3 linked regions of the Homo sapiens genome follow. The protein of the gene in region 1 purifies or fractionates together with the protein of each later gene. This does not show direct contact. Each region holds a gene or a part of one and is shown on either strand. Other genes may lie near its edges.

Region 1 (3,753 bases):
GGAATTATAATCGGAATTAGAATATTTAAACCAATATATCGAAAATATAATTTTTACATAAAATCAATATAAGAGATTTTAGATTCTTGTTTTTCACATTAAGTCTTCAAAATCCAGTGTGCTACATATTTTGTACTTCTGCGTCTCAGTTCCAAAACCTTCATCAGAAATACTTGTCTGTATTGGATTTAAAAACTTTACATTTAAAATATACATGCACATACCCAAGTTATTCCAAACATACTTTTTTCCAATAATGTAATCAAATATCCAATTTTAAACTTAAAATTAAAAATGAAGTTATGAGCCCAGGTGGTCAGCGTTGCAGTTAACCGTGACTGGGCAAGTGCATTCCAGCCTGGGCAACAGAGCAAGACCCTGTCTTAAAAAAAAAAAAAATTAAAGTTCGGTTCCTCAATTCCACTAGCCACATTTCAAGTGCCCACTTGCCATGTGTAGCTACTGGACAGCAGGGAGCTACACCCTAGGTACTCCCAATGTGGTTTCCAAACCAGTGGCATCTTCACCTAGAAACTTTAGAAACACAAAAGCTTGGGCCTCACCCTAGACCTCCTTAAACAGAATCTGCAACTTAACAAAATCCCCAGGTGATCCATATACACAACCACATTGGGGAACACTACTTAGAGTGTTTTTAAAATAGATTTTGCTACTTTAACACCTAGTGATAAAAGTAAAAACATTTATTTTACTTACATACACCAAATGTGACTCTTTCATCTATGTATACCCTTGTTTACCTCAACCAACACCCCGGGAAATGCTAGGACCTAAATGTGATCAATTTTGTTTGCAATTATCTCACAATACATCCAGGTGATAATTCTTAAGAGTCAAAGACGCAGCTAAGAAGGGTGGCATTACCTGTAGATTATTTTCTTCCATTTTGTTTCGAAGTTTTGTTGAAACAAAAATGAAGATTTATCCTTCAAGCTCTATTTGAGAGAATCAGCACTGACTCAGCTGTAATAAATACAAAACCGTTTTTGTAAAGCGATACCTGAAAGAAATAGCTGCCTAGTTCAGAAGGGAAGAACGAAAGCCTCTTTCTTACTCCTTACTACAGTATATAATTTAAATAGAACGCTTAAAAGTAAATAATGAATTCACCTCTGAGTACTCAAAAAAAAAAAAAAAAACACGAAAGCAGGACTCGAACAGATATTTATACACCGAAGTTCATAGCATTATTCACAATAGCCAATCTGTGGATTAAATGTGGACTACCATTTAATCCACAGAATGTATCCAGTATTTTTTCAGACATTCGCAAACAGGCTCAGAAAGCGTAACTTTTCACTACGTCAAACCCTACTAAGAGCGAAAACAGCCATCCTTTCCCTTTACTATCATGAATAGTTCAACTAGATACAAACGGAGCAATCTTAGGAGTTCTGCCCATTTCATTGCTAAGACCCTCAACTTCAAATTTTTTCAAAAATTTTTCCACACATCGTCAAAATGAAATTTCGAGGGGGAAAAAAAGTGTCCTTGATAAACTAGAGATGCTCCAACATCTATTCAATTCACTCACGAACTTGAATTTAAATTTTAGTTCTCTATTGCACATGTGTCTCCAACAACTAGACTTTAATCTGGAATCTAGGCAACATGTTAGTCACCAACTTGTATTAAGAAACCCTGGCCGGGCGCGGTGGCTCACGCCTGTAATCCCAGCACTTTGGGAGGCCGAGGCGGGCGGATCACGAGGTCAGGAGATCGAGACCATCCCGGCTAAAACGGTGAAACCCCGTCTCTACTAAAAATACAAAAAATTAGCCGGGCGTAGTGGCGGGCGCCTGTAGTCCCAGCTACTTGGGAGGCTGAGGCAGGAGAATGGCATGAACCCGGGAGGCGGAGCTTGCAGTGAGCCGAGATCCCGCCACTGCACTCCAGCCTGGGCGACAGAGCGAGACTCCGTCTCAAAAAAAAAAAAAGAAAAAGAAAAAGAAACCCTGCTCACTGAAACCAACGCTTCTGTCTTTGTACGGGCCGTCGCTTCCATCATCCTGCGGTAAGCAGCATGCCCAACCGAAAAAACAAAGCTCGTCGCGGAGCCGCCAGCGTCCTCAACTCAGCGCCGCCCTGACGCCCGCGCACGCACGGCCTCGCTGCGTGACGCTACCGCCGCGGCTACGCCGGCGCCCGCACCCGCGCCTCGGCCTCCCCGCGGGGCTCGCCAACCTCGTGCGCTCTCACGGTCGGCCTTGGGCCCCGGGAGCCTCATGGTGCGCCGAGCTCCGTCCCTCTAGGCTCTCAGTTCCAAGGCGTCGGTTTTGCGTCTCGTAACGGCCGCTGTGGCGCATGCCCAGAAGCCATTTTCAAGGTCCTCTTCCGAACCTTGGCGAGGACCCCTGCGCCTGCCGCGCCGTTGACCCCGCTAGCGTGCGGCTGCGACGCGGCACGGTACGGCAGCTGTTGGCGAAGGCCCCCAACTCCGAGCGCGTCCGCAGACCGCGAGCCGGAAGGCGGCTTGGGCGGCTGTTGAGTTCGTGGCGCTCCCGAGGCGTGGCAAAGGCCTAAAAACGGTCCTGGCCAGCGGAAGGCGGCAAGAGGAGCAGCAAGGCTCCACGCGAGGCGGCCGGCGGCTGGAGTCCCAGTCAGCCTCCGCTTTCATCCCAGAGCAGTCCACGGGGGCCTTAAAGGAATGTAGGCTGGGTGAAGTTGGCCCAGTGACACCTGCGTTCAGAAAAACGTTCTTTCCGCTCCCAACGCCCCCTCTCCACCGCCACCCGACCCCCGAAATAGTTTTCCCCGAGTGTTGTGGATAGAACTGTTGATCTCTTGGAAAAGTTATTGTATCCTGCCATCCTTCCCTCTGGAGACTCCACTTAATATATATAAGTACTTTCTTTCCTGTATATGATGGAAGAGTATTAGGGGGGTGAGGGGAGGGACGAAGCTGCCTTCTTTAGGGAAAAAAGATTGACTTATATTTTGAAAGATGCAAAAGCTGGTGTTTTTGCTACTGAATTAATAGCCTATTAATATGCCACAAATGATATATTGGAACTGTATTTTCAAACATTTAACGCCTGCTGTATGCAAAGCACTATGCTGACAGCTTAAGGGTACCACAATGATAAATTACACCAATCTTGTTTTTGGCATTTTGGGGAGTCTAGTGTCATAGGTAAAGAAGTACATAACTAACAATAAGCTTCAAAAATTCAATCATAAGGCCCGGCACCGTGGCTTCCGCCTGTAATCCCAGCACTTTGGGGGATCACTTGAGCCCCGGAGTGTGAGACCCCGTCTCTACCAAAAAAAAAAAGAAATTAGCTGGGCATGGTGGTGCCTGCCTGTGGTCCCAACTGTTTGGGAGGCTGAGGCCGGAGGATCACTTGACCCCAGGAATCTGAGCCTGCAGTGAGCTATGATTGCACCACTGCACTCCAGTCTGGGCGACAGAACCAGACCATGTCTAAAAAGAAAAAACACTCAGTGATAATTTCACATTACAGTTTGAGAGGTTCCTGTTGACTTGGGGAAACTAGTTTTAGCAGACTTCATTAAAGGAGTGTACACCTTACTACAGGATGTAATTTAAAATAGAATGTTTAAATAATAAATTCACTTCTGGGTATATACTCAAAGCAGGAATTCAAACAGGTATTTGTACACCAAAGTTCGTAACAGCATTATTCACAGTAGCCAAAATGTGGAAACAACCCAAATGTCCATTAAAGGATGAATAAACAAAATGTGATATACATACAATGGAATATTCAG
Region 2 (3,653 bases), on another chromosome or scaffold:
GATTCTCTTTTTTGTCTTCATACTATTATTTCTTTTAGCTTTTAAAAAAATTGTGTACTGCCTACAGGTCTTTATGGAAGTTTCACCTTTCTTTGTGTCGCACTGGCATCGGCTGTATAATTTTTGCAGCTAGACCACATTTTAAAAAAATCTACATTTTTGGAACTAGTAAAAGATACTTATTTGTGTTATTTAAGTATTCACGTCTTTTACCGTGGGTAGTTAAGTTTAATAATTTAAAAAGACACATTTTATCAGTAACAATGTTCATTTTATTTTTCAGACTCTTCCCTCTACTACTTACTCTGTATTTCTGTCTCTTCTAATGACTAGGAAAGGCAGTTTCTCAAAATCATCTTCTATTTAGTTGGCAAATGTGATAATGTGGGTAGTGTTCCTACCTTCCTGCTGTATGTGTTCTACTGAAATGAGATATAATAGCCATCTGGCTACAATTTTGATTTCTAAGAAGTTCTTATGTCATTTTAAATTCAAAAACTAAGTGTTTCAACATTTGGTCTCTCATATCTTAAGTTTTATTTTCTTTGTTCCAGCTGTTCAGAGATAGTGTGTTCTAATATCTCCACAATCAAGATTTTTGACTAAAATGGATCAGTACATGAAAAAGAGGGACTAGTATTAATTTTAGATCTTGTTAGTTAATCATGGTCTTACTAATAATTTGGCAAGTTCTTTAATGAGCCAAATCTTTGTATTTCAAATGCCTTGAAGTTGTTATTCTTTCCTATTAGTACCCTGATGGGAGGATGAAAACAGCAGAAAGGAGCAGCACCAGATGATCTTTTCATGGGCACGTACTCTTTCAAGGAATCCCATGGAGCTCAGTGAAATTACACTTTGGCTTAGAGATAATTAAGTTGTGGAAGGAGGTTTAAGAGAGGAGCTTAGGTGAAATTTGAGCTGTAAATGAGTATGCTAAATTAAAGAAATGATTAGTAATAAATGAGATTTGCTATTAAGAAATTCACTTTGGATCTGAGACAACATTTTACATACAATGTAGAAAACTTTATGGTCAGAACAGAACACAGTCTGAACCTAAATTAACAGTAGTGTTAAAGAATTCAGGGCGGGATATTATCCAAGAAGGCCTAGCCAGCTGCTCCACTTAATGTTACATCACAAGTGGTTTCTGTGTTGCTATTGTTTTTATTAGCATTTCAATGACTGTGTCATATTACATTAAATCAATTGGCTCTAACTTACCTAACCATCTTGCTGCTTTTTATTGTCTAGTTCTTGGAAAATATGTAATAATTTACTCTCAGATTGAGGTCATGTCCTTGTCAATGTCATACCAACCAGGTTTGTTCACTGCATCATCTGAACGCTATGTAGGTTTCTATAATTAGGCTCATTAGAGTGTTCCTAGATCCAAAGACTATCTAAAGATCTAAAGATTCATAATTCTAAAGTGAGGGTGTGTGTATAGTTTACAACAGATGTTCTCTCCCCACTTTTTTTTTTTTTTTTTTTTGCTGTTTGTGATTAACTGGAACTGCAATGAATGCCATCATGCTTTTAAGGAATTCAGTTGTATTGTTGAAAAATACAATTTTCTTAATATCTAAGGAGCTCTTAGTCAGTGGTAAGCACTTTGCTGAGATTTTGCATATACAGTATGTCCTTCGATCCTCACAACAACTAAAGGAAGTAGATAGACACTATTACTATTCCCAGTTAACAGATTGAGAAATTGAGGCTTAAAGAAATTAAACTTGTCAAGTTGACACAGTAAATACATGGTGAAGACAAGGCTTGAACCCACATCATCTTTCCGGTGTTCTTCTCTACAAGCAGTTTATAATTATTGACTTATCTTACTTTTTCTTCTTTTTGAAACATTTATTAATATTAAATCTCATACAACTTTTGTGAATCTAGAAAGCTAATTTTGCATGTAAATTTTAAAATTATTTTGTTAGATTCCCTCAGTTTGAGATGTTCTTAACCTGGGACCTTATGGATAGAATTCAGAGGATCCATAAACTTGGATTGGAGGTTACTAACTTCTGATAAATTGAGCATTTTTTTTTTTCCATTGTTAGTGTTGGCAACAAATACATAATATCATCAGTACATGTGACTTGCTAATATAATTTACAGATATTTCAGTATCACAAAGTTGAGGCAGATACCACAAAACATCATCTGCACATCACTATTTTGTTATGGTAGTTAGACCTACCACTAGATCCTGTTATTTAATACTTTTAAAAAAAAGCATTTGATAATATTTCAGTAAAACTGGTTTTCCTTGTAATCTGTATTTTATATTGAATGTTTAAAAGGATTGTTCTGAGAAAGAGTCCACAGGTTTCAGCAGATAGGCCAAGAGCTTTTGTGGCACAAAGCTTAGCATCTAAGGTTCTTTCTGACAAAGTTAGTTTGAAAACAATGGATATTGTTTAGTACAGAGTCAGAAAGTTAACTAGTTAAAAAACTGGATACGAAGAAGAGTCATATATAATGAAAAGGTATTTTACTTTTTATTGATTTGCAGATGTAATTTCTAGTAAAATTACTTCAAGATGTGAATAGGGTACTTGGGGTATGAAACAAATTTTTTTAAAGAGGTCATAAACTTAACACTTGCAGGTATTCATTTATTTTAATAACACACTTCAAAAGACTCCCTATACTGGTGATTGGTTTTATTCCCTATGGAATTTTGCCCTGTTTTTGGGGGGTTTCATTTCTATTGTACAAACTCAAGACATCGAAGATATGCCCTAAGATATAAAGCAATTAAACTGTATGTTAGGGCCTGGGTAGAGCTTGGAATTGTTAATCATTCTATTAGGATTTTTCGTCTTTTTTTGTTTGTTTGTTTTGTTTTTTGTTTGAGGCAGAGTCTTGCTCTGTCACCCAGGCTGGAGTGCAATAGCACGATCTTGGCTCACTGCAAACTCTGCCTCCCGGGTTCATGCCATTCTCCTGCCTCAGTCTCCCAAGTAGCTGGGACTACAGGCGCCCGCCACCACGCCCGGCTAATTTTTTGTATTTTTAGTAGGGACGGGGTTTCACCGTGTTAGCCAGGATGCGTCTTGATCTCCTGACTTCGTGATCCGCCCGCCTCAGCCTCCCAAAGTGCTGGGATTACAGGCGTGAGCCACCATGCCTGGCCAGGTTTTTTCAACATTATAGAGATAAAATGGTTCATTGCAGCTCTAGTTGAAGTCGTGAATAAAGATGAGATTGAAACTAAGATATGGATTTGCCAAGTATACGAATTAAATAAACTCTTGATCTTGACTAGGTTTTATTTGTTGGTAAGCTACTTTTTTGTGGAAGAGTATTTTGATACATAGAAATAATCCTCCCCCTTTGTTATTTTGCTCTAGTTTATTAAATAAATCATTTGATTCTAATAAGCGTAGATAAGGTGGTTAGTTTATTTTCTGGAAGTACAAGTAAACAAGCCCATGGAAACAGCACTAAGTGCTGAAGACTTTCTGCTCTCATAATGTTTCTGGTTATCGAAATATGTCTCCATCTGTAATTTAGCAGAAACTAAGAGAAAGAGCCACTTTTGCAAACCAGCCCATGAACTTTTAGCCAAATCCTCTTATGTAATGTAAGGTCAACAAGAGAGTATTCCCATTATATAGATGAAGAAATTGCATGCCGTT
Region 3 (3,653 bases), on another chromosome or scaffold:
CCTGTCTCGACTAAAAATACAAAAAAATAGCTGGGCATGGTGGCATGCGCCTGTAGTCCCAGCTACTAGGGAGGCTGAGGGAGGAGAATGGCGTGAACCCGGGAGGAGGAGGTTGCAGTGAGCCAAGATCGCGCCACTGCACTCCAGCCTGGGCGACAGAGTGAGACTCCATCTCAAAAAAAATAAATAAAAAAGTTAAATTAAAATCATAAATTCAGTAGCTCAGTAGTATTAGCTATATTTCAAGTGCTGAACAGTCATGCAGCTACTGTACTAGACTGTACATTTTCATCTTTCCATCAGATCTACTGGACAGTGCTGGTTTAGAGAGAGTACTTAGTTTACGCACTACGTATCTTTAGGAAAATATAAATCAAACTACTGATTTACCAGGTATTCAACATGCCAAAATTAGAATTTCCATTATTAGCAAATATTTATATAGCAATTATATTACTTTTGCAAAACGATTGGCCTCCATGATACAACTGAAAATTAGTATGTGATTATGCCAAGCTTCTAAAGAATAAGTGCTTTTTTTTTTTTTTTTCGAGACAGAGTCTTGCTCTGTTGCTCAGGCTGGAGTGCAGTGGCATGACCTCGGCTCACTGCAACCTCTGCCTCCTGGGTTCAAGAGAGTTTCCTGCCTCAGCCTCCCAAGTAGCTAGGATTACAGGTGTCCCCCACCACGCTTGGCTAAATTTTGTATTTTTAGTAAAGACAGAGTTTCACCATGTTGGCCAGGCTGGTCTCGAACTCCTGACCTCAGGTGATCCACCCAGCTTGGCCTCCCAAAGTGCTGGGATTACAGGCGTGAGCCACCATGCCAGGTCAAAAGTTTAAAACAGTAAAGTAACAATCACTTGAAATTATGAACTTCAGAGCTTTAAAAATATTTCTGCCATGCAATGTCCTTCAACCAATGAACAGATAAACAAAATGTGATATATCCATAAAATGCAAAATTAGTCATTAAAAAGATACTGATGGGTGCTAAAATACAGATAAACCTTGAAAACATCACGCTAAGTGAAAGAAGTCAGACATAAAAGGCCATATACTGTATGATCTGCTTATATAAAATGTCCAGAAAAGACAAATTCACAGAAACAGAAAGCATACTAGTGGTTGTGAGGGACTGGGGGAGGGTAGAATAGAGAATGACAGCTAATGAAAAGGGTTTTTTTTTTTTTTTTTTTTTGAGACAGAGTTTCGCTCTTGTTGCCCAGGCTGGAGTGCAATGGCGCGGTCCTGGCTTGCTGCAACCTCCGCCTCCTGGGTTCAAGCAATTCTCCTGCCTCAGCCTCCTGAGTAGCTGGGATTACAGGCACCTGCCACCACAACTGGCTAATTTTTTTGTATTTTTAGTAGAGATGGGGTTTCACCATGTTGGCCAGGCTGGTTGTGAACTCCTGACCTCAGGTGATCCACCCACCTTGGCCTCCCAAAGTGCTGGAATTACAGGGGTGAGCTATTGCACCCAGCTGAAAAGAGGTTTTTTGTTTTTTTTTGTTTTTTTTTTTTTAATAATCTGGAACTGTGTGTTTCCCAGAACCAGAATTACTTTCTCCATAGGGTACAAAGTTATAGTTGACCGCAAGAAAAATTTGCATGAGATTTGAAACGTGACACTGAAGGAGCAGACATTTTAAATATTCTGAAATTCACTGTGAGGTTGGGGTTTCTTTTTTAGGATGACGGAAATATTCTAAAATTATACAGTGGTGATGTTTGCAAAACTCTGTGGATACACTGAAAATCACTGAATTGTGCACACTGCAAGGATGAATCATATATGTCATTAAGGCTGTTTAAAAAATTATGCCAATAATCCAAAAAACATATTTTTAAAGGACTTTCTCCATATCAATTTGGCAAAGATTTAAAAGACTGGTACCTAGCTGGGCGTGGTGGCTCACGCGTATAATCCCAGCACTTTGGGAGGCTGAGGCGGGTGGATCACGAGGTCAGGAGATCGAGACCATCCTGGCTAACACAGTGAAACCCATCTCTACTAAAAATATAAAAAATTAGCCGGGCATGGTGGCACGCGCCTGTAGTTCCAGCTACTCGGGAGGCTGAGGCAGGAGAATCTCTTGAACCCAGGAGGCACAGGTTGCAGTGAGCCAAGATCGCGCCATGGCACTCCAACCTGGGCGACAGAGCGAGACTCCGTCTCAAAGATATAAATAAATAAATAAAAGACTGGTACCCAAAGTTGGTAAAGATATGGGAAAACAAGAGTTCCCATTCATTGCTGTAGAGACATACTTTGGAGCATAGTTTCTGAGGGTAATTTTATAACATAAAACAAAATGTTCAAAAATCGATTCCTTTGGCTTAATATTTTCACTTTAAGAAATTTATTCTAGACTAGCTGTGGTGGCTCACACCTGTAATCCCAGCACTTTGGGAGGCCGAGGAGGGTCGATCACTTGAGGTCAGGAGTTTGAGACCAGCCTGGCCAACATGGTGAAACCCCATCTCTACTAAAAATACAAAAATTAGCCAGGTGTGGTGGTGCACGCCTGTAATCCCAGCTATTCGGGAGACTGTGGAATGAGAAGCTCTGGAACCTGGGAGGTGGAGGCTGCAGTGAGCCAAGAGTGTGACACTGTACTCCAACCTGGGTGAGAGAGGAAGACTCTATCTAAAACAGAAAAAAAAAAAAGAGAGAGACCATCAATAAGGAGGTGGTTAAAAAAACTACGCTACAGGGTGGGCACAGTGGCTCATGCCTATGGAAGGCTGAAGCAGATGGATCCCTTAAGCCCAGGAGTTCAAGAACAGCCTAGGCAACATAGTGAGACCTCATCTCTACAAAAAACTTATTTATTTATTTATTTTGGAGCTAGAGTCTCACTGTGTCTCCCAGGCTGGAGTGCAACAGTGTGATCTTGGCTCACTGCAACCTCCACCTCCCGAGTTCAAGTGATTCTCCTGCCTCAGCCTCCCAAGTAGCTAGGACTACAGGTGAGCACCAACACACCTGGCTAATTTTTGTATTATTAGTAGAGACAAGGTTTCACCATGTTGGCAAGGCTGGTCTTGAACTCCTGACCTCAAGTGATCTGCTTGCCCTGGCCTCCCACAGTGGTGGGTTATAGGTGTGAGCCACCGTGCCCAGCCTCTACAAAAAATTTAAAAATTGGCTGGGTGTGGTGGTGTGTGCCTGTGGTCTCAGTTACTCAAGAGGCTGAGGTGAAAGGATTGCTTAAGCCCAGGAGATTGAGGCTACAGTGAACCAAGATCATGCCACTGCACTCTAGCCTGGATGACAGAGCGAGACCCTGTCTCATAAAAAAGAAAACCCAAAAACAAATACAAATACAAAAAAAACCTATGCTACAGTCATACAGCAAAATACTATGCAGCTGTTAGTGTAAAGCAGACTTATAAGTAGTGTACATGGAAAAAAAAAGTAGTATACATGGAAAGATGTTCACAATATATTAAGTGAAAAACAGAAAACTGCTTTGCATAATAGCATGTATAATATGACCTCATTTTCATTTCTTTTTGTGTTTTTGAAGACAGGGTCTTGCTCTGCTGCCTAGGCTGGAGTGCAGTGGTGCGATCTCAGCTCACTGCAACCTTTGCCTCCCAGCCTCAAGCAATACTCCCACCTCAGCCGCTTAAGTAGCTAGAACTAT

The links.
Region 2: the proteins of HENMT1 (region 1) and MTHFD2L purify together in Homo sapiens (affinity purification with mass spectrometry; 2 studies listed by BioGRID and IntAct, with this or other methods). This does not show direct contact.
Region 3: the proteins of HENMT1 (region 1) and RAD51C purify together in Homo sapiens (affinity purification with mass spectrometry; one large-scale study listed by BioGRID and IntAct). This does not show direct contact.

Annotation. Positions count from the first base shown.
Region 1 is NC_000001.11:108,658,979-108,662,731, forward strand, and holds the start of HENMT1 (small RNA 2'-O-methyltransferase), read right to left. Parts: upstream 2,116-3,753; 5' UTR 2,030-2,115; coding exon of another isoform or gene 1,985-2,029; intron 985-1,984; 5' UTR 907-984; coding exon 886-906; intron 1-885. UniProt on the Homo sapiens protein: Methyltransferase that adds a 2'-O-methyl group at the 3'-end of piRNAs, a class of 24 to 30 nucleotide RNAs that are generated by a Dicer-independent mechanism and are primarily derived from transposons and other repeated sequence elements.
Region 2 is NC_000004.12:74,161,028-74,164,680, forward strand, and holds part of MTHFD2L (bifunctional methylenetetrahydrofolate dehydrogenase/cyclohydrolase 2, mitochondrial), read left to right. Parts: exon of another isoform or gene 1-752; coding exon of another isoform or gene 753-800; exon of another isoform or gene 801-1,226; intron 1,227-3,653. UniProt on the Homo sapiens protein: Bifunctional mitochondrial folate-interconverting enzyme that has both NAD/NADP-dependent methylenetetrahydrofolate dehydrogenase and methenyltetrahydrofolate cyclohydrolase activities.
Region 3 is NC_000017.11:58,713,003-58,716,655, reverse strand, and holds part of RAD51C (DNA repair protein RAD51 homolog 3), read right to left. Parts: intron 1-3,653. UniProt on the Homo sapiens protein: Essential for the homologous recombination (HR) pathway of DNA repair. Involved in the homologous recombination repair (HRR) pathway of double-stranded DNA breaks arising during DNA replication or induced by DNA-damaging agents.